5 separate regions of the Homo sapiens genome follow, and all the other regions are reported to be linked to region 2. Evidence: microRNA targets listed by miRTarBase, many of them from high-throughput screens and not tested one by one. Region 2 holds a microRNA gene; each other region holds the end of a gene's coding sequence. Distances are from middle to middle.
The links. The annotated mature microRNA hsa-miR-888-3p reads GACUGACACCUCUUUGGGUGAA and lies in region 2 at 1,178-1,199, shown strand. An mRNA with a match to its seed (bases 2 to 7 or 8) in the 3' UTR can be bound and repressed. Matches are read on the target gene's strand: a 7mer-m8 pairs with bases 2 to 8, a 7mer-A1 pairs with bases 2 to 7 and ends in A, and an 8mer does both.

Region 1: miRTarBase lists DDHD1 as a target of hsa-miR-888-3p. Seed matches in the 3' UTR shown: 8mer at 210-217.
Region 3: miRTarBase lists GPR132 as a target of hsa-miR-888-3p. Seed matches in the 3' UTR shown: 7mer-m8 at 2,197-2,203.
Region 4: miRTarBase lists RDH11 as a target of hsa-miR-888-3p. Seed matches in the 3' UTR shown: 7mer-A1 at 2,200-2,206.
Region 5: the mRNA of PPEF1 is a reported target of hsa-miR-888-3p. Seed matches in the 3' UTR shown: 7mer-A1 at 3,598-3,604 and 8mer at 3,494-3,501.

The regions. Positions count from the first base shown.
Region 1 is chr14:53,042,893-53,047,150 of GRCh38, forward strand. It overlaps DDHD1 (DDHD domain containing 1), which reads right to left. Exons shown (of 13, transcript NM_001160148.2): 13 at 1-4,057. The coding sequence ends at 3,876. Among named protein-coding and RNA genes, the nearest start is that of FERMT2, 94 kb to the left of the region's middle.
Region 2 is chrX:145,991,524-145,995,992 of GRCh38, reverse strand. It overlaps MIR888 (microRNA 888), which reads left to right and starts at 1,133; the gene lies at 1,133-1,209. It overlaps MIR890 (microRNA 890), which reads left to right and starts at 1,642; the gene lies at 1,642-1,718. MIR892C (microRNA 892c) reads left to right here and starts at 3,167; the gene lies at 3,167-3,243.
Region 3 is chr14:105,048,353-105,052,647 of GRCh38, forward strand. It overlaps GPR132 (G protein-coupled receptor 132), which reads right to left. Exons shown (of 4, transcript NM_013345.4): 4 at 1,043-3,750. The coding sequence ends at 2,642. The region is part of intron 1 of LOC124903398 (a long non-coding RNA gene); the gene reads left to right. Among named protein-coding and RNA genes, the nearest start is that of GPR132, 15 kb to the right of the region's middle.
Region 4 is chr14:67,675,567-67,680,035 of GRCh38, reverse strand. RDH11 (retinol dehydrogenase 11) reads left to right here. Exons shown (of 7, transcript NM_016026.4): 7 at 1,613-3,236. The coding sequence ends at 1,715. It also overlaps a transcript of GPHN not described here. Among named protein-coding and RNA genes, the nearest start is that of VTI1B, 3.2 kb to the right of the region's middle.
Region 5 is chrX:18,826,710-18,831,178 of GRCh38, reverse strand. It overlaps PPEF1 (protein phosphatase with EF-hand domain 1), which reads right to left. Exons shown (of 16, transcript NM_001377996.1): 16 at 3,262-3,903. The coding sequence ends at 3,692. Among named protein-coding and RNA genes, the nearest start is that of PHKA2-AS1, 61 kb to the left of the region's middle.

The DNA.
Region 1 (4,258 bases), not on the chromosome of region 2:
AATACATACACTCAAATTAGTTTTCTCGATTGTCCACATGCCTTACTCATTAATTAGCTGAGAAGATAGAAATACCAATCTAATGGATCAAAAAGAAATTTGTCTTCTACTACAGACTTTACAGGAAAATCTTTTGGCTTGATCTGACTCCACTGGAAGGGGCTCATGTACTATCACTGGAATGAACAGAGGCACTAGCTGTGATACGGTACTGACAATTTCTTTTCCTTTTGTCTACTGTCTAGGTGATGCAAAGCTGGAATATGGTGTGTTAAATTTTCTGCAGACTAGGATGCTTCAGCTCCCAATGAGAAAACAGAGAAAAAAGAGACTAAGGATGAATGTTTACATGTCTGAGGCCTTTAGCGTGAGTATTCAGCATGAAGCATGTTCAGTGTGAGTACTTCAAAAGATAACAGATGCCGTTTAACAGAAAGAAGTAAAACGTAAGATTCCTAAGGCTTGCTTCACATACAAAAGAGCAGTTATTAGAACATCCAGTGTGTGTGTGTGTGTGTGTGTGTGTGTGTAAATACATACTTTTTTTTTTTGGATACAGTGTCCAGCTCTGTCACCCAAGGTGGAGTGCAGTGGTGCAATCTTGGCTCACTGAAGCCTTGACCTCCCGGAATCATGCAGTCCTACCGACCTCAGCCTCCTGAGTAGCTGGGACCACAGGCGTCTGCCAACACACCCAGCTAATCTTTGCATTTTTTGTAGAGTCTGGGTTTCACCATGTTGTCCAGGTTGGTTTTCAACTCTTGGGCTCAAGTAATCTTCCCTGCTTGGCCTCCCAAAGTGCTGGGATTACAGGCATGAGCTGCCACACCTGGCCAAAATCCAGTATATTTTTAAATTATGTCCTAAAACACAGAAACACTGGATTATAAACAAGATTACTGTTGAAAAGAAAGTATGAACTAACATAAGGCCTTAGCAAGACTAATTTTAAAGTAAAAATAAAGCAAGATTTAATCTAAGTCTTATTCTAACGGTTAATAATTCTTGGGAAGCTAACTAAAGTTCAGTGATCTAATCAGTACTTGGGAGAATCATCATAGCATGTACACAAAATAGAGAATAAAATTTTAATGGTATCAAAAACAAAACTTTTTTTGGCCGATTTAGTACTTGCTGGAATAAAGTTGCAAAATGTTACTCAGTAACTGACTTAGCTTCTAATCAAGCCAGAATGACACACAGTCTGTATATTAATTAAGTATATACAAATACATCCAATGTTAACATGCACAGACATAGAAACAAGGATACTACAAAACCGAAATCACCATCTCTACTGATGAAAAATGAACTGAAAACAAAACATCCATCCAGTAGTCCAGAATATCTTATTTTTGAAAAGGTTTTGAATATTGCTCTTTCCAAGAATTCAAATAAACTCCAAATGGTTAAATTTGACTGTTTTCTCAACATGAAAAAAAGGAAGCAGACATATTCCTATGGCTATAGGAACATACCTTTTACTCAGTGATATCAAATTAAAAGGTCTGACATAATTTCACTCTTCTCAGGTAAAAAGGGCTCTTCATATTCTAGTGGTTAAGAATAAATCCCTTCAAGTTCTTATGCATTTGAGTGTCATACCACCTACAGCAACATACGCTCAAGTACCTTTAACGATACAGTCATATAGCATGAGTTTAATTTTCCTGAGAACTAAATTAGACCTACAAAATAAACAGGCTATGAAAATGACCTGAGTTCATAGGAATCTCTAAGTTAGAGATAATTTAGCTTTGCTAAGATTTCATCAAAAGCCTTTTATAGCAAGGGTTTCTTAGTGAGTCACATACTTGGTCATGGAGCCTTGGAATTTTTTTTAAACATTAAAAAGAAGTGCTTTATGTTGTTGTGCAAATTCAGCAAAAGGCCAAAACAGCCAACAGTACTGAAGCACTAAGTAAAACCTACAAGTAAGCCACAGATTCTACTATCTTATGAAGAAAGGAGGAGGTGAGAGATACAGCTGACCAACTTTGCTCCCAGTTTGACAATGATTATTGGGAAGCTAAGCAATTCCTTGCAAGTTAAGAAAAGACAGCACCTTAAGTGGAACCTAGTGGAAACCACTCAGAAGTGAGGGTTGTGTGCAACAGGGATGGCTACTGATCCCCTCTAGGTAACTCCTCTTTTGTGTGAGAATCCAAGAACATAGAAATCAAGCAGGGAAACACCGGCTTCATGGTCATTTCTCTGAATTATGAATTGCAACTTCTGTTATTATTGTTTGCAAACTACTAAAAGGTCACATGTGAATCAAGTCATTGAACAGCATATAAAAGAATATGGCCTGGCTTCAACCCAAGCTTTTCTTTTTTGTTTTTTAGAGACAGGGTCTGGCTCTGTCACCCAGGCTGGAGTGCATTGGTGTGATCAGAGCTCACTGCAGCTTTGAACTTCTGGGCTCGGGTGATCCTCCCACCTCAGCCTCTTGAGTAGCTGGGACTACAGGTGTACACCACTACAAGTGGCTAATTTTTGTCAGTTTTTGCAGAGAAGAGGGTCTCACTATGTTGCCCAAGCTGGTCTTGAAATCCTGGGCTCAAGAGATCCTCCCATCTTGGCCTCCCGAAGTGTTGGGATTACAGGCGTGAACCACGGTGACTAGCTCAATCCAAGCTTTTCTGATTTCTGATGTAATCTAATTCATGGCACTTTAAATGTTTTGGTGCCTTGGTGTATTAACATGTAACATGAGAACAAGATTTATTTACTTACCTCAAGAAGCTAGTACATGGGTTATTGAATGCACTCTTAAACTTTGAGCCCCTCAGATGAAAAGCACTGTGGAAACAATTACAGCTGAAGAAAACCCTTCCAATGCCTCAGAATCCTGACTTACTGTGCCTTGTGTCTCAATGGCACATTGAGAAACAATGTGCACTAGTTAGTGGCATCACATCCCTTCATATATGTTGTTTGGCACACAAATGTTTATACATTTAAAATAGCTGTCATACTACCTATTCAAAAGCATTTACTAGTTTTCTAATAAAGCTAATGAAATGTACCCATTATGGAGTACTCCGTGTCAAGTTTAGAGAAACTTTAGCTTTCTCTGAAGTACATGTAACATAATAAAAAGTTTATTTAAAAAATTGAACTAGTGTTGTATGAAGCCATAAGTTTTTAATGAAAAAAAATGTATGCCACAGTGTCTATATATTCATCTGAAGAGTACAAAGATGGAGTTCTGAGAAAAAAGGGTTTATCACTATAGAAAATAAATCTGGTTCTTAAATTATGTTCAAAGCAAACATTAAAACAGTAATGTCTCATACACTGAAATAAAGCAATTAGAGGTAATAAATTATAAATACAGTAGTTCAAATATTGTTTTAAGCATTAGTTTTTCTAAACAAGTTAAATTCAAAACATTTTAAATCTGTTATATTTTTTCAAAGGGATGTACAAATGAAAGCCTTCATAGAAATCTAAAACGATACCACCTTGTGATCTTCATATAGAATATGCTGAACCTTGACCATTTTTGATTTATAACATACTTTGGTTAATACATTATGTTCCATATGCCTTTATATTTGGGAGGAATCAGATTGTGATTTGTAGCCTTTACATGCAGTTTACCCAAACCTTCTTCACATCCAGGTCTTGCTTGATTCTCTGGAGAAGGTTTTGTCAGACTCATAATTAAAATGATGCAAACTGTAAATGACTTCTTCAGAACTGAAAACTTCTTTTTTTTTTAAATAAAGTGCTTTTAAATTCAAATATATGTTGCCCTAAAGAAAACTGAAATATACTTTAACCCTGAAATCTCCGTATCTTGACACACACATTTTAACGGAAAAAAAAAAAATCAGTTTTAGGCCATTCATGTCCTTCAAGAGAGTTCAGATTGGATCTAAATTGGGTTTTGCATCATCATCGTGCTCATGTTTATACATGAAGGTTAAAAGAAAAAGGGCAACATCCAAGGATGACCAATAGGCAGTATGCGACGTGACAGCTGACCAATAGCGGCTCTCCACAAGGCCTTCTCTGAGTTCAAAATCAATCCTGTGATCCAACTCCACTAAAAAGAAAAGAAGTTAAACAAATGAATACAGATTATAATAAAATATGTTCTATATAGACTTACTGGAGTTGAGAGTAAAAATTTAGCTAAATAGAAGTGATTCTGTCACTTTTTTAAGAAGTGACTTTCCATTATCATCTTAAGAGAAAAACACTCAAAAGAGCCTCAGTAGTACAGGATTCTATTTGTAAAGTTCTT
Region 2 (4,469 bases):
GAGAGTGATGAAAGCTGCTGGGAGCAACCATGCGAGACTGGGCAGCACCTCCGTATTCAGCCATAATGTATGCAGTGCCTTTTCTAGAACAGTTCCAGTCACTTGGATTATATGTAACTGGTTCCTTTCTGGGTGGAGTAATATCACCAAACACAACTTTTGGCTGGCCTTTGGACTCCTGATGCAGTGGAGCGTCAGGGGCCTTTCAACTGCCTTCTCGAATGCCAGAAGATCCTAGTTGGTCACGTGGACCTCAGGCATCCTCAAGATGATTTCGATGGTGCACACCAAACAATATGAGCACTTATGTGTTAAGGAAGCAAAAGATAAAAGATCAATATATGTTTTGTAGAAGAGGAGAAATCTGGAAAAAGTGTGTTCACTACTGGTCTTGGTAATTATCTGGCTAAACAAAGCAGATGAGAGGGTACTCACTGAAGGAAGCATGCAAGTTGAAGGGCAATGAGCTGGGTATTCTTTGGGACTTATGAATAAGTTAAGTTCGGGGTTCAGGCGCCATGCTGTGTTGAGGGGAGTGGTGAAAGCTGTAGGGTATAACTGTGCAAGATAGGGCAGTACCTCCACAATCAGCCATGCTGTGTGCAGTGCCCTGCCCAGAAATGTGTCAGTCGCCCAGATTATATGTCACTAGTTCCTTTCCAGGTAGAGTAAGGCACACCAAGTATAAGTTTGTAGTGGCCTTTGGACCCATGATAGTGTAGAGTTGCAAGAGCCTTCAGGTACCTTCCCTGAGACCAGCAGATCTTAGTTGGCCATGTGGACCTCAGGCATCCTCAAGATAAGTTAAGTGGCTTGTCCCTAACAACATGAGCACCTACAGGTTATAGATCAGAAAGGCAAGATGAAGATAATTCCTACTAGAAAAATAGAAAATGGGAACAATCTTGCTCTCTTCTGGTCCTGGCAATCATCCAGATAAACATAGAGTAGGTGAGAGATTCCTCACTTAGGGAGGCATATACCTTGGAGGGCAGTGGGCTAGACATGATCCAGGACTGATGAATAAATAAGTTCAGGGTTCAGACATCATGCTGTGCTCAGAGGAGTGATGGAAGCTACAGGTGGAGAACACGCAAGATGCGACAGCACCTCCACAATTAGCCATGTTGTGGGCAGTGCTCTACTCAAAAAGCTGTCAGTCACTTAGATTACATGTGACTGACACCTCTTTGGGTGAAGGAAGGCTCACCAAGTACACTTTTGTGGTGGTCCTCAGACTGGTGAGGGGGTAGACCTGCAAGCAACTTGAGCTGCCTTCATTGATCCCAGGAGAACCTTGGAAACCACCTGGAATTCAGGCATCGTCAAGATGATCATTTCTAACAACGTGAGCACCTACAAATTAGAGAAGGCAATGACAGAAAAGATAGTTACTTCCTAAAAGGAGAAAACAGGAACAATCTTTTCTTGTCTTGGCCATCATCCAGGTGAACATAAATCAGATAAGAAGGTCGTCACTGAGGCAGGCATGCCAAGTTGGAGGGCAGTGGGCTGGAAATTCTCTAGGAATTAAGATTAAGTTCAGGGTTCAGGCATCCTGCTGTGTTGAGTGGGGTGATGAAAGCTGCAGTGCACGATGGTGGATGATGGGGCAGCACCTCTACAATCAGACATGCTGTGGGAAGTGCCCTACTTGGAAAGGCATCAGTTGCTTAGATTACATGTAACTATTCCCTTTCTGAGTAGAGTAAGTCTTACCAAGTACAAGTTCATGGTGACCTTCGGACAGGTGATGCAGTGGAGTTGCTGGAGGCTTTAGTTGTCTTCAGTAAGGCCGGGAGATCCTAGCTGGCCACCTGAACCTTAGGTGTTCTCAAGGTGATTTCAATGATGCATTTCTAACAATGGAAATACCTATTTTTCAGAGAATAGAAAGATAGAAGAAATGAAGATACTTCCTAATAGAAGAACAGAAAACGAGCTTGTTCTCTCATGGTCCTGGCAACCATCTGGGCAAATATGGAGCAGTGAGCATGTCTCATTGAGTGAGACATGCGTCATGGAGGGCAGCAGACTGGACATTCTCCTGGACGGGGGTTGACCTTGCAAGATGGGCCAGCACCTCCGCTATCAGACATGCTGTGTGCAGTGTCCTACTTAGAAATGTGCCAGTTTCCTAGATTATACATCACTGGTTTCTTCCTTGGTAGTGTAAGGCTCAACAAGTATAAGTTTGTAGTGGCCTTTGGACCCATGATAGGGTGGAGTTTCAAGAGCCTTGAGGTACCTTTCCTGATACCAGGAGACCTTAGTTGGCCATGTGGACCTCAGGCATCGTCGAGATATTCTAAATCGTCTGTCCCTAACAACATGAACACATGCAGGTTATAGATGAGAAAGACAAGATGAAGATAATTCCTACTAGAAAAATAGAATGAGAACAATCTTGCTTTCTCCTGGTCTTGGCGATCACCCAGGTAAACATAGAGCAGGTGAGGGGTTCCTCATTTAGGGAGGCATGTACATTGGAGGGCAGTGGGTTAGACATGATCCAGGACTGTTGAATAAATAAATTCAGGGTTCAGGCATCATGCTGTGCTCAGGAGTGATGGAAGCTACAGGGGGAGAACATGCAAGATGGGACAGCACCCCCACAATTAGCCATGTTGTGGGCAGTGCCCTACTCCAAAAGGGGTCAGTCACTTAGATTAGATGTTTCCAGCTCCTTTCTGGGTAGAGCAAGATTCTCCAGGTACAATTTTGTGATGGCGTTCAGATTGGTGAGGAGACAGACCTGCAAGCACCTTCAACTGCCTTCATTGATCCCAGGAGAGATTTGGAAGCCACCTGGAACTCAGGGATCCTCAAGATGATTTTAATGATCCATTTCTAACAATGTGAGCACCTACAGGTTAGATAAGGTAATAATAGAAGAGATAAAGATACTTCCTAAAAGAAGAAGAGAGAACGGGAACAAGATTTTTTTTCTTCTCGTCTTGGCCATCATCCAGGGAAACATAAATCAAGTGAGAAGGTCTTCATTGAGGCAGGCATGCCAAGTTGGAGGGCAGTGGGCTGGAACTTCTCTAGGACTTAATAAATGTGTTCAGGGCTCAGGCAGCCTGCTGTGTTGAGGGGAGTGATGAAACCTGCAGTGCGTGATGGTGGGTGATGGGGCAGCACCTCCACTATCAGTCGTGCTGTGGGCAGTGCCCTATTCAGAAAGGTGCCAGTCACTTAGATTACATGTCACTGTTTCCTTTCTGAGTGGAGTAGGGCTTACCAAGTACAAGTGTGTGGTGGTCTTCAGACAGGCGATGAGTTGGAGTTGCTGGAGCCCTAAGTTGTCTTCAATGATGCCAGGAGATCCTAGCTGGCCACCTGAACCTCAGACATCCTCTAGATGATTTCAGTGGTTCATTCCTAATAATGAGAATACCTATATGATAGAGAAGAGAAGGATAGAAGACGTGAAGATACTTCCTAATAGAAGAACAGAAAAACAAGCTTGTTCTCTCGTGGTCCTGGCAACCATCTGGGTAAACATGAAGCCAAGTGAGAGTGCTCTTGCTGAGGGAAACATACATGATGGAGGGCAGTGGGCTGGACATTCTCTAGGATGGGGATTCACATTGCACGATGGAGTAGCCCCTCCCCATTCGTCCATAATATGTTCCAGAAAGGTGCCAGTCACTTAGATTATATGTAACTAGTTCCTCTCTGAGTGGACTAAGGCTTACCAAGTACAAGCATATAGTTGCCTGTAGACCCCTGATGTGGAGTTCCAAGGGCCTTGAGCTGCCTTCCCTGATGCCAGGAGATCCTATTTGGCCACATGGACCTCAGGCATCCTCAAGATAATTCTACTGGTGCATTCCTAATGATGTAGACTCCATCATGTTAAAGAAGAAAGTGATAGAAGAGATGAAGATACTTCCTAGTTGAAGAATAGAAAACGGGAACAAGCTTGTTTTCTCCTGGTCTGGGCAATCATCCAGGTAAACATAGAGCAGGTGAGAGGGCACTGAGGGAGACATGCAAGTTGGGGGCTTGTGGGCTGGGCATTATTTTGAACTGATGAATAAATAAGTTCAGGATTCAGGCATCATACCGTGCTCAGAGGAGTGATGAAAGCTGCAGGGTATGAAAATGCAAGATGGGGCAGCACTTCCCCTTTCGACCATGCTGTGTTCAGGGCTATTCCCAGAAAGGTGTCTGATATGGTTTGGCTGTGTCCCCACCCAAATCTCACCTTGAATCATAGTTCCCATAATCCCCATGTGTCATGGGAGGGACCCAGTGGGAGGTAATTGAATCATGGGGGCGGTTACTCCCATGCTGCTGATCTCATGATAGTGAGTTCTCACAAGATCTGATGGTTTTATAAGGGGCTTTCACCCGCTTTGCTCAACACTTCTCATTCCTGCCGCCATGTAAAGAAGGACGTGTTTGCTTCCCCTTCTACCGTAATTGCAAGTTTCCTGAGGTTTCCCCAGCCATGCTGAACT
Region 3 (4,295 bases), not on the chromosome of region 2:
CGGTGGGTGAGACGGCGCCCGGTCCCCAAGGCTGGGATCTGACGTGGGAGCGAGGCTCTTATTTGTTGCTGTGTGGCAGCAAAAGATGAAAAAGTGGACTCTGGCTTCAGAGCTGTGAGAAAACAGTGGTTTTTTTTTTTTTGAGATGGAGTCTCGCTCTGTCTCCCAGGCTGGAGTGCAGTGGCGCGATCTCGGCTCACTGCAAGTTCTGCCTCCTGGGTTCACGCCATTCTCCTGCCTCAGCCTCCCGAGTAGCTGGGACTACAGGCGCCTGCCACCACGCCCGGCTAATTTTTTGTATTTTTAGTAGAGAAGGGGTTTCACTGTGTTAGCCAGGATGGTCTTGATCTCCTGACCTCGTGATCCGCCCGCCTCGGCCTCCCAAAGTGCTGGGATTACAGGCGTGAGCCACCGCGCCCAGCCTGAGTAAACAGTTTTTGGTTGTGTTTTTTTGTTGTTGCTGTTGTTTTGTTTTTTGAGAAGGAATTTTGCTCTTGTTGCCCAGGCTGGAGTGCAATGGCACGATCGCAGCTCACTGCAACCTCTGCCTCCTGGGTTCAAGCGATTCTCCTGTCTCAGCCTCCGAAGTAGCTGGGATTACAGGTGTGCTCCACCACACCCAGATAATTTTTTTGTGTGTGTTTTTAGTAGAGACGGGGTTTCATCATGTTGGCCAGGCTAGTCTTGAACTCCTGACCTCAGGTGATCTGCCCGCCTTGGCCTCCCAAAGTGCTGGGATTATAGGCATGAGCCATGGTGCCCAGCCCGGTTTGTTGTTTTAAGCCACCAACTTGTGGGAACTGGTTATAGCAGCCACAGGAAAGCCCCTGCTGGACATCGTTATGATCCCTTTTGCCCCAGCCCTGAATATTCCAGACTGGTCCAGAACCTCAGCCCCAACTTTTCAAGTCCCTGGTCACGGCTGTCCTCTGGAAGCCTAGGGGCACACTCCTCTCAAGGCAGGAGAAATGTTAACTGTGAAGGTTAAATTGGAGAAATGTTAACTGTGAAGGTTAAATTGGAGAAATGTTAACTGTGAAGGTTAAATTGCATTATTTCTTTTATTTTTATGATTTTTTTAATACCAAAAAAAAGAGACAAGATTTTGCCATGTTGCCGAGGCTGGTCTCAAACTCCTGACCTCAACTGATCCTCCCGTCTCGGCCTCCCAAAGTGCTGGGATGACAGGCGTGAGCACTGCCCTGCCTTGTGCTTTTATTTCTAAACACATTTTCCTAATGTATTTTTCTGATGACTCTCAAGGGGAGGATGGCTGTTTTGGCTGGGTGTGGTGGTGCACACCTGTAGTCCCAGCTACTCAGGAGGCTGAGCGGGGAGGATCGCTTGAGCCCAGGAGTTTGAGGCTGCAGTGAGCTATGATGGTGCCACTGTTCTCCAGCCCAGGCAACAGAGCAAGGCCCTGTCTCTAAAAAAATAAATATTAAAAACAAAAACAAAAACAAAACAAAAACAAGGAAGAGCAACTGCATAGCTGCCTGACAAAACGAGAGCGTGGCTCAGCCCCACGGCCCTGCGCGGCCTCCCTGGAAGCCCCTGTGCTGTGCCGGGCACTGGGCTCCCCATGCAGGTGCTGCGTCTGCCCGGCTCTGTGCTCTGAGTGCATGCGATGTGCCCGAGGTGTCGGGGCAGGGAGGAGGATTGATCTCGATGGTGACCCAGTGAGGTAGGTGTCATTGGCCCCATTTTACAGATAGGGAAACCAGGGCATCAGTGTGACCTGGTCTAGGCAAGGCCTTTGCGGCAGACCCAGATCTGACTCAGCCCCGAGGGTGCAGGGAGCTGGCTTTCTCCGCCAGACAAGCAGGCCAACTGCTGCACTCCCCCCTCAGTAAGGGGCTAGGGGTGGGGACCCCACCCTGTACGGACCCCTCACCAGCATCTCCCCGAGGATGCCGCTGGGGACTCCTGGCACCCCTTGCCTCTGCTGTGGCTGTGTCACACCTGTCCTGCCAACTGTTGTTCTGGGCGTGGACATTTGGGGCTCCCCGTTGAGGACGCCTGGGCTGCGCTCTGGGAGCCAGCAGCTGGCCACCCTGCCCCACGGTTCCCTAGAGGCCCTCCAGCTCAGCACAGACCCAACCCCAGATGAGGGCGCCTGCCCCCTTGGAGGTGGTAGGCTGCCCTATGCCCTCCTGGGCGCTGCCACAGTGCTGGGTGACCTCCAGCATGGTGCTCACTGACATTCTGAGGCAGGAGCCCAGAGGGCCCACAATGCACCACCGCATCCAGGCAACGCTTGCAGAAATGCTCCGCAAATAAAGTCATCGCCACTGATGCGAACAGGGCAGCCACCAGGTACCTCTGCCAGCAGGCGTGCTACCTGCCCACAGCCAAGGGAGCCAGCCAGGCAGGCTGCTGATGAAGAGGCCCCACTGCCTGCCACATGCTCTCTGGGCTCCCGGAAGCCTGGAGGTGTCGCTCCTCCCCTTGGCATGCAGCCACCTTCCATGTGGGAAAGCCTGGGGCCAGTGGTCACGGAGGGAGTGGCTTCAGGAACGAGAAATTGGTAGTTTGTCTTCCAGAGGGGACATGGGCACTGTGGCTGGTGGGCTCAGTGCACAGGAACCACATTGCTGGCCCCAGGACCCCCAACCTGCCATCCCCCTGCCACACAGTGGGCTCAGCAGGACTCCTCAATCAGCCTCTTTGCAGGGCATGGTGACCCTGGTGGGTGCACGGGCCTGGAGAAGGTGTAGTGGTCTGCAAGGGCCACGGGCGACTGCAGCTCCTCGGTGTCCCTGCTGTGGGTGAGCCTGGTGACGTCTGTCTTCATGGACCACTCTTTCCACCCCTTATGGATTCTGGACACTTCTTGGCGGGAATGGTCCGTGGCCAGCACGTAGATAATGGGGTCAGCCACGCCGTTCACCGTGGACAGGCACAGAAACACCACAGAGGCTGTGTACAGCCTTTCCTCCAAGCCGCACATGGCGTTCCTGTCTCCTCTGTAGTAGGAAAAGGCAGCGGCTTTGACGAGGAGAACCAGGTGGTACGGGGCGAAGCAGACTAGGAAGATGACAACCACCGCGATGGCCGAGTGCTTCACCTTGGCCTTCTGGGCAGCGCTTAAGCCCATGCTCTGCTTGATGCTCCTGAAAATCCGGTGGTTGGTGAAGGCGATGATGGAGAGAGGGATGGCAAAGCCAACGGTGAACCTGGCGTAGTAGTACCCGGCAATCCTGCTGTCCATCTGCAGCATGTCAAAGCAGGTCTCCTTGTCTTCCGTCTGGAACACCGGGTAGTGAACGATCCCGACGAGGATGAAGATGCAGGCGGAGATGAGGATGGCGGTCCTCCGGCGGCGGCGGCCCCGACTCTCCAGCGCGTACACCACGGCCACGAAGCGGTCGCAGGAGATGCAGCACAGGAAGAGGATGCTGACGTAGATGTTGCAGAAGAAGATGTAGGCGGTCACCTTGCAGGCCAGCAGGCCTAGGGTCCAGCGGTGCTGGTTGCGGATATAGATGACCCAGAGTGGCAGCGTGCCTGTGTACAGCAGCTCGCAGAGTGCCAGGCAGAGCAGGTAGACGGCCAGCACGTTGCCCTGCAGTACCTGCAGCAGCGCCAGCCACGCAGTCAGGCAGTTGGCCGGCACCCCCAGCGTGCACACCGCGCTGTACACCACGACCAGGACTATCCTGCTCTCTTCGAAGGACACGTTGTTGCAGGTCTTGGCGGAGAGGCCCAGGGAGGCCCACGGGGCAGTGGTGGTCACTGGGGTGGCGTTTCCTGTGGGACAGAGACAAGAGTGAGGACGGGAGTCCCTGGAAACCACCTGGGAGAGACTCTACTGTGGGAAGAAAGGATAGAAGCTTTGTGGTAGCTCAGACTAGACACACGCAGGTGTTTAAAACATTTCCAAATTGATTTTTTAGAGCAATTATTAGATAGTGGATCTCCAACCTAGCAGCGTCATGGACAAAGAATGCAGGCTGGGCAATACTGAATCATTTTTCTTTTTTCTTTTTTTTGAAATGGAGTTTTGCTCTTGTGGCCCAGGTTGGAGTGCAGTGGCACAACCTCGGCTCACTGCAACCTCTGCCTCCTGGGTTCAGGCAATTCTCCTGCCTCAGCCTCCCAAGTAGCCAGGATTACAGGCACGTGCCACCATGCCTGGCTAATTTTTGTATTTTAGTAGAGACGGGGTTTCACCATGTTGGCCAGGCTGGTCTCGAATTCCTGATCTCAGGTGATCCGCCTGCATCAGCTTCCCAAAGTGCTGGGATTACAGGCGTGAGCCATTGTGTCTGGGCAATGCTGAGTCTTTGTAACTC
Region 4 (4,469 bases), not on the chromosome of region 2:
TGCTGCTGGTTTGTGGTGCACACTTTGAATCCCACTGTCTTACTTGACATAGTGTTAAGAGTTTGCATATATAGTTAATTCAGACTTGTCAACTCTTTCACCTTCAGAATTTGCTTAGATACTGAGGAAGCAATTTTCTTGAAATAGTATACTTTTAAAAATTGTTTCCTCACATGACTAAAGATTGTAATACATTCAATCATTTTTTTTAAAACTTTGACTGAATGCTTACCAGATGTATACCAGATCCAGAGAATACAAAAATGAGTCAGAATTGTCCTTAAGAAAATTTTCTGCATCGGAATTATAAAATTATAAAACTTGGAATTACAGGCTGGGTGCAGTGGCTCATGCCTGTAATCCCAGCACTTTGGGAGGCCGAGGCAGGTGGATCACTTGAGGTCAGGAGTTCGAGACCAGCCTGGCCAACATGGCAAAACCCTGTCTCTACTAAAAATACAAAAATTAGCCAGTCATGGTGGCAGGCGCCTATAATCCCAGCTACTCTGGAGGCTGAGGCAGGAGAATTGCTCAAACCTGGGAGGCGGAGGTTGCAGTGAGCTGAGATCGCATCACTGCACTCCAGCCTGGGCGACAGAGTGAGACTCCGCCTCCAAAAAAAAAAAAAAAACTTGGAATTAATTACAGCAATGAAGAGAGGGTATATGAAACACTTTGCTATGATTTGAATGTGTCCCTCAAGGTTCATATGTTGGAAACTTAAGCCTCAATACAACAGTATAGAGAGGCAGGGCCTTTAAGAGGTAAATTAGGTCACAAGGGCAGCCCTCATGAATGGTTTAATGCCATTATCTCTGGAACGGGTTCATTATCTTGGGAGTGGTTCCTTATTAAAGGATGACTTGTGTCCCCTTCCCTCTCTTGCCCATGTCATGCCTTCCATCTTGTTATTACACAGCAAGAAGGCCTTCATCAGATGCCAGCCCCTTGATCTTGGACTTCTCAGCTTCCATAATCATAAGCCAGTTTCTGTATGCTCATTATAGTTACCCAGTTTGTCGTATTCTGTTACAGTACCACAAAATGGACCAAGACACCTCGTACCTTGGTTTTACCATTTCTTTTCTGTGTCGCCTTTTCCTTTTGTTGTTTTCGAAGCTGGCTTTACTTCTCATATGAGTTTACTAACAGTATAACTTCAAGGAGTCCAGAAATAAGCATTTCTTTTTTTTTTTTACTACTCCAGGCATCTCTGACCAATGTGAATAGCAGGATCTCAGCTATATGACATTGTCCAAGGCTCTGTAGAATGGGCCTTATGGACTTACTTGAAGAAGATGGATATACATGGGTGTCAGGCAGGCACTAATATTAAATTATATAAATAGGGGAATATAAAGACCAAATGTATGCATTATATATCAAACAAAGCATTCTGATGAGAGGTGGTCTAGCGAGGAGATCTAAAATGGTAATTACATTTTCTCTGGCTAAGGACTGGAGAATGAAGAGATAAGGACAAACACTGGCCCTGTGAAGTACATGGAGAACATGTGATCCCTAGTTGTTTTTATGTCATATTCCTTATCCCTGGCAGATGGCAGACTTCATTCTTAACACTGTGCTTCATACCTTTCTCTTTACCTTCCAGTGACTGTCATGTGGCATGGGTCTCTGCCCAAGCTCGTAATGAGACTATAGCAAGGCGGCTGTGGGACGTCAGTTGTGACCTGCTGGGCCTCCCAATAGACTAACAGGCAGTGCCAGTTGGACCCAAGAGAAGACTGCAGCAGACTACACAGTACTTCTTGTCAAAATGATTCTCCTTCAAGGTTTTCAAAACCTTTAGCACAAAGAGAGCAAAACCTTCCAGCCTTGCCTGCTTGGTGTCCAGTTAAAACTCAGTGTACTGCCAGATTCGTCTAAATGTCTGTCATGTCCAGATTTACTTTGCTTCTGTTACTGCCAGAGTTACTAGAGATATCATAATAGGATAAGAAGACCCTCATATGACCTGCACAGCTCATTTTCCTTCTGAAAGAAACTACTACCTAGGAGAATCTAAGCTATAGCAGGGATGATTTATGCAAATTTGAACTAGCTTCTTTGTTCACAATTCAGTTCCTCCCAACCAACCAGTCTTCACTTCAAGAGGGCCACACTGCAACCTCAGCTTAACATGAATAACAAAGACTGGCTCAGGAGCAGGGCTTGCCCAGGCATGGTGGATCACCGGAGGTCAGTAGTTCAAGACCAGCCTGGCCAACATGGTGAAACCCCACCTCTACTAAAAATTGTGTATATCTTTGTGTGTCTTCCTGTTTATGTGTGCCAAGGGAGTATTTTCACAAAGTTCAAAACAGCCACAATAATCAGAGATGGAGCAAACCAGTGCCATCCAGTCTTTATGCAAATGAAATGCTGCAAAGGGAAGCAGATTCTGTATATGTTGGTAACTACCCACCAAGAGCACATGGGTAGCAGGGAAGAAGTAAAAAAAGAGAAGGAGAATACTGGAAGATAATGCACAAAATGAAGGGACTAGTTAAGGATTAACTAGCCCTTTAAGGATTAACTAGTTAAGGATTAATAGCAAAAGATATTAAATATGCTAACATAGCTATGGAGGAATTGAGGGCAAGCACCCAGGACTGATGAGGTCTTAACAAAAACCAGTGTGGCAAAAAAAAAAAAAAAAAAAAAAAAAAAAATCCTAAAAACAAACAAACAAAAAAAACAATTCTTCATTCAGAAAAATTATCTTAGGGACTGATATTGGTAATTATGGTCAATTTAATAATATTTTGGGGCATTTCCTTACATTGTCTTGACAAGATTAAAATGTCTGTGCCAAAATTTTGTATTTTATTTGGAGACTTCTTATCAAAAGTAATGCTGCCAAAGGAAGTCTAAGGAATTAGTAGTGTTCCCATCACTTGTTTGGAGTGTGCTATTCTAAAAGATTTTGATTTCCTGGAATGACAATTATATTTTAACTTTGGTGGGGGAAAGAGTTATAGGACCACAGTCTTCACTTCTGATACTTGTAAATTAATCTTTTATTGCACTTGTTTTGACCATTAAGCTATATGTTTAGAAATGGTCATTTTACGGAAAAATTAGAAAAATTCTGATAATAGTGCAGAATAAATGAATTAATGTTTTACTTAATTTATATTGAACTGTCAATGACAAATAAAAATTCTTTTTGATTATTTTTTGTTTTCATTTACCAGAATAAAAACTAAGAATTAAAAGTTTGATTACAGTCAAAAGAAGAAAACACTGTTCATTATTATGGTTGTGCAATGATTTCTCATTCTAAAGAATAATTTGTTCCAGAGTCTAGCTACAGTGTAATCTCAATCCACATGCTATTAATTTAGGTTGTGTGATAATCTAATTGTTCATTCACCATTTCCTACTTAACCTTTTTTGACACTCTTCACAGACACTTTTTCCACATTTCTTGATCATCCCGGGCCATTTTTTTTTCCTTTCTTTTTAATTAGAGACAGCGTCTTGCTTTGTTGCCCAGGCTGGCCTCAAACTCTGGGCTCAAGCGATCCTCCCACCTTGGCCTCCCAAAGTGCTGGGGTACAGGTGTGAGCCGCAGCACCCGGCCCCAGGCTATTGATCCTTTTTTTGCACCTGCCCCTTATTTCTGTACTGTGACAAGTCCCAGCATTGTGCTGTGGGACTTACACAGTATACTGACTATCCTCAGACTTGGTCATGTCTATGCTCAGTGCATATTAAGAGCTTAACCAAAGTGTGTTGAATCAACAGCCAATGAACTTGATCTAATAAAAATGAGGGCCCAGGAGATACAAATTAGCAAAGCATTTTCTCCTGAGCAGTCATACATCTTTTAATATTTGTAGGCAGTTTAAAATTGAACTCCCAAGCAAACATTTGAGAACAGACACCTTGAGCAAACCGTGAAATCGGTGAAAATAATAATTTATTTTAATTTTTTGAGATAGGGTCTTCTCTGTCACCCAGGCTGGAGTGTGGTGGCACGATCTCAGCTCACTGCAACCACTGCCTCCCGGGTTCAGGCGATTCTCCTGCCTCAGCCTCCCGAGTAGCTGGGGTTACAGGCGCCCACCACCACGCTTGGCTAATTTTTGTGTTTTTAGCAGAGACGGGGGTTTCACCATGTTGGCCAGGCTGGTCTTGAACTCTTGACCTGAAGTGATCCGCCCGCCTCGGCCTCCCAAAGTGCTGGGATGACGCGTGAGCCACCATGCCCGACGTGAAGACAGGAATTTATACCCATGGAGTGCAAGAAGGGACCTTGTAATTTTTAACACGTGACACTTAGTGGCAGATGAGACCTAATGAAGCCAGGCCCACCTTCCACACCAGATTATAAATTCCCCTGGAGCAGAGATTAAATGTTTTATTCACCAACATGCCCAGATCCCTCGCAATGCCTACGCTTGACAAACACCTGTTGTCAACAAGTGCACGAGGCAGCCTAGGAGGAGAATTAGTCTCCACGA
Region 5 (4,469 bases), 130 Mb from region 2:
TTGAACCTGGGAGGCGGAGGTTGCCGTGAGCCGAGACTGCGCCACTGCACTCTAGCCTGAGTGACAAGAGCAAGACTACGTCTCAAAAAAAAAAAAAACACACTGTGAATTCTTCAGATTAAAGGTCTTCCCTGGGTTTGCAAAATTTTTAACCTATGGCCCTGAGCTGTTTTTATCCAGGCAATGTAAATCACTCCAGGATTGTCTCCTGAATTTTCAGATGGTTTTATGCTACAAGGAAACTGTTTAACTGTTTTTTTTTTTTTTTTTTTTTTTTTTTTTTTTCACAGAAGAAGGGCAATTCAGACAGAGTATTAATAGACTAAATATTCAGGCAAAGTAGGATAGAGAGGAGCAGTAGGAGTTACATCAGTTTTACCATCCTTGGTGTGGGGGATATCTTCCATTTCTAGCCTTTCATTAGCTCTTTGCAATGAAGCTTTTAAAAAGGCTATTTTGGAATCCTGGGCAGGTAACCAAGCAAAAATGTCAGCAGATTCTAAGTAGGCAGGGGAGGACAGAGAGAAAGAGAGCTTAGAAGCCTCTACATGCTAATCAATTATATACATCCCATTCAGACTTTAACCCTATAGCTACAGTCTGCTAATTTAGTTCTAAGAATAAAAAGAGGTTGGGCGTGGTGGCTCACGCCTGTAATCCCAGCAGTTTGGGAGGCTGAGGCGAGTGGATCACGAGGTCAGGAGTTCGAGACCAGCCTGGCCAACATGGTGAAACTCCGTCTCTACTAAAGATGCAAATCAGCCAGGCGTGGTGGTGCGCGCCTGTAATCCTAGCTACTCGGGAAGCTGAGGCAGGAGAATTGCTTGAACCCGGGAGGCAGAGGTTGCAGTGAGCCGAGATTGCACCATTGCACTCCAGCCTGGGAGACAGGGCGAGACTCCCTCTCAAAAAATAAAAATAAAAAAAATAAAAGAATAAAAACAACCTTGGGAGGCTTGAACAGTCCACATAAAGACCACTGGAACTCCAAATGGTCCTTGGTATAATCTTTTTTTGTTTTTGTTTTTTTTGAGATGGAGTTTCACTCTTGTTGCCCAGGCTGGAGTGCAATGGTGTGACCTTGGCTCACTGCAACCTCTGCCTCCTGGGTTCAAGTGATTCTCCTGCCTCAGCCTCCCGAGTACCTGGGATTACAGGTGTGCACCACCATGTTGGGCTAATTTTGTATTTTTAGTAGAGACAGGGTTTCACCATGTTGGTCAGGCTGGTCTCAAACTCTTAACCTCAAGTGATCCACCTGTCTCGGCCTCCCACAGTGCTGGGATTACAGGCGTGAACCACCGTGCCTGGCCAAGTCTTTGGTATAATCTGCCCATAGGTTTAAAAACGTGCACAAGAATGGACCATAATGTTTGAATACATAGCTGTCTGGAGTCCCTAAAGGGGGACTATATTTGCATGCATTAGAACTTGGGGTGTCCATTATGTTTCTTATTAATCTTTCTAGATCAAAATCCAGAATACCAAAGACAGCCAAAAGAAAGAAAGATTTAGACATAACAGTCAGTATGCTAGTCACAAATAAGGTGCAACCCACATTTCTGTCTAGCCATATTCTTGGCAACTCCCAACCTTTTGGTTGGTTGACCAAGTTCTCAGAACACAAAAACATGACAAATAGGAAACCTATAGCTGTCCATGGGAGGGAAAGAACCACTAACAAAGGGGCAGCCTAAAGCCAAGAGTACTCAGTTCTTTAGAAATTAAGGATCCTATTTTTATGTTGGAACTTGGGTCTCTCAGAGCAAAGTTGGTTTTGGCTCTGAAATCCCTTTAACTTAGCTAATGATTTTTCTTACCTCAGCACACAAGAAGAGAAGAAATAAAGTGGATAGATAGCTGTGAATTCTGAAAGCCAGGCTCACTCCTACAGTAACAGTCAGTTACTGCAACTACTGTCAGTTACCTTTGAAACTGCAGCCCCTGCCGGTGACTCATCATCCACTGCAAACCCAAAAGCCATGTGTCCTCTTATGGCACAAACCCTTGGTATTTGTTTTAGTCTGTTTTGTGTTGCTATAACAGAAAACCTGCAACTGGGTAATTTATAAAGAATGGAGGTTTATTTAGCTCATGGTTCTGGAGGCTGGGAAGTCCAAGATTGGGTGGCTGCATCCAGTGAGGCCCTCATGCTGTTTTATAGCATGGTGGAAAAGTGAAAGGAGCAGGGGAGAGAGAGCACTCACACACCAGAGAAAAGGGGGCTGAACTTCTTTAATTGCTAACTTACTCCCATGAGAAAGGCACTAATCCCTCTTAAAGACCCCACCTCCCAAAATGGCCAAAATGGCAATAAAATTTTAACATGAGTTTCAGAGGGGACACACCATATTCAAATCATAGCAGTACTCCAAAGTCAAATGCTCACTCTTGGCATTTACCTTGGATTTGAAGGCCAAAAAATTCAGGGGTCTCAATGCAAAAACAGCAGAGTCTGGCACAAAAGGAACTTATTTACAACACCTAGGACTCTGTGAGGAAGACAGGGGACCTGAAAGGGGTCAGCAGCACGTCTCCTGCATTCCTCAAGAGGCCCTTAAGAGTAATTAGTAGTCTCCTTATGGTCCCTTTTATGGTCACCAGATTGGTCAAAAGATAACATTTAAAGATCTTAACTGGCTTTGTTTGTGATTCTAGAATCAGGCAACACTTCCTTCTGTAAAAATAAAGTGTTCTGATAAGCTGAGCAGAGGAGGTTGGTTTTATAGACAGAGAAAAACTGAAGAAAGCAGAACCAAAGGACAAAAAGCAGACTGGTTGTTTCAAAGTTACCTTCCTTGTAAGACAGCAGGGAAATAACAATAAACAAATAATTGATTGGTTAACATCAGGTTATTTTTGTTGTAAGGCAGAGGGAACTTCATTATTATGCCAATTGAAGCTGGCCGGAGATGACACAGGACCTCAGCATGGGTGACCCCATTTTGACTTTTAGTCTAGTCTGTTGGGGCCTGGTGAAGGAGCTTAGTCCAAAACAATGGGCTCCTACAATTTTCATTTAACAGTATGCATAAGCAAGGCCCCATCTTACCAATGAAGGTGTCAAACCATATTAATTATAGGGCTCAATCCAAGTGTATTCACTTTGTATCTCCAACATACACACACACACAAATACGCTTTTTCAAACAATACACTCCCACAGATTCCCCCCAAGAATCCAATATGGTTCTCATCCCTGAAGGGTGGATCCCTTAATTGAGGATCACTGGCTTATAAAATCTCCAAAGAAGATCACAGTTTAAAGATGGAAAGACTTTATTCCATGAATAACCTGGTATTCCTCCTGTCTCCCTCAGTCACTCACAGATGTCAAGCTTAGTAGTTTTCTCTTGTGCTGTATGAGTTCCTTTCAGGATGTTTTCAAACCGCTCTGGCCTCCTGGTTAGGTGGCACTCACGACAACACCACTAGGTCCAACCCAGTTTCTCACTGGCAATATGTAGGTACTAATGCTGAAACCAAATCCTATTACTGACATTTAACCTAATCTTACCAATAACAGCTTGCTAGGGACTTCCAAAACCCATACTATGCATCTGTTTGTGGGATGAATTGGGATCTGCTTTTCTCTGCTACTGACTATGAATTTCAGGGGTGTTGGAAAGGACTGTACTTGTGATTTGGGCCTAGCTGTTTCAGGGAGCCTGAGGGAAGCTCTCATTTGTGTTTAGCCAAGGTTGGTGACATCAGGTTTCATCAAGTCTTCATATCTATGCACTACATAGAAAGCCTTTAAAAACTCATTAAAGTCAATGCTTCCATCTTTGTTCAAGTCCATTATGTTGGCAAGCTTATTGACTTGGGAATCATCAATGTGAACATTGTAGTGAGAACTAAAAAGTTTCCACATGGCACGAAATTCTTCCACGGAGATCAGGCCTAAAAGAATATAGGAGAAGGTTGTGAGTGTTCATTTTAAGACCCACCTAAGGCAAGGGTTGGGGAACCCACACTGATTAAATAGCCCCAGTTAGAAACTCACTAAACTGCCTAATCATGAAGATACTGAAGGATATGGAAGAGTAAGATCATAAATGTAAGAAACAATATCTCACTTTCAACTACCAAGGGATCCTGAACTTATTCTAAAGCCAGAATGAGCAAACAGTGAAGAAATGGGGACGGGGTTGTGGACTATGGGACTAAATGTGGTATAGAAATTACAAGACCTAAAATAGAAAGGTGAGGTGCATGGAAGGAGGGCAGAGAGGAGGATGACATCAAAGCAGAGGGAGAAGATACGGTGGGAGTCAATAAGAGGATTACAAACAATGGTGCTGCCTTTTTCACAGGCAATCATTTACTTTAATGTGTTGATCATTGATTTTTTTTTTTTTTCGGTGTTCAAAGGTCTCTGCATTAGGGGATTATCTGATGAGTTTTTAAAAATTTGAAAATAAGTAATTGTGCATCAAAGCTAAAGGCAGAAGGCCGGGCGCAGTGGC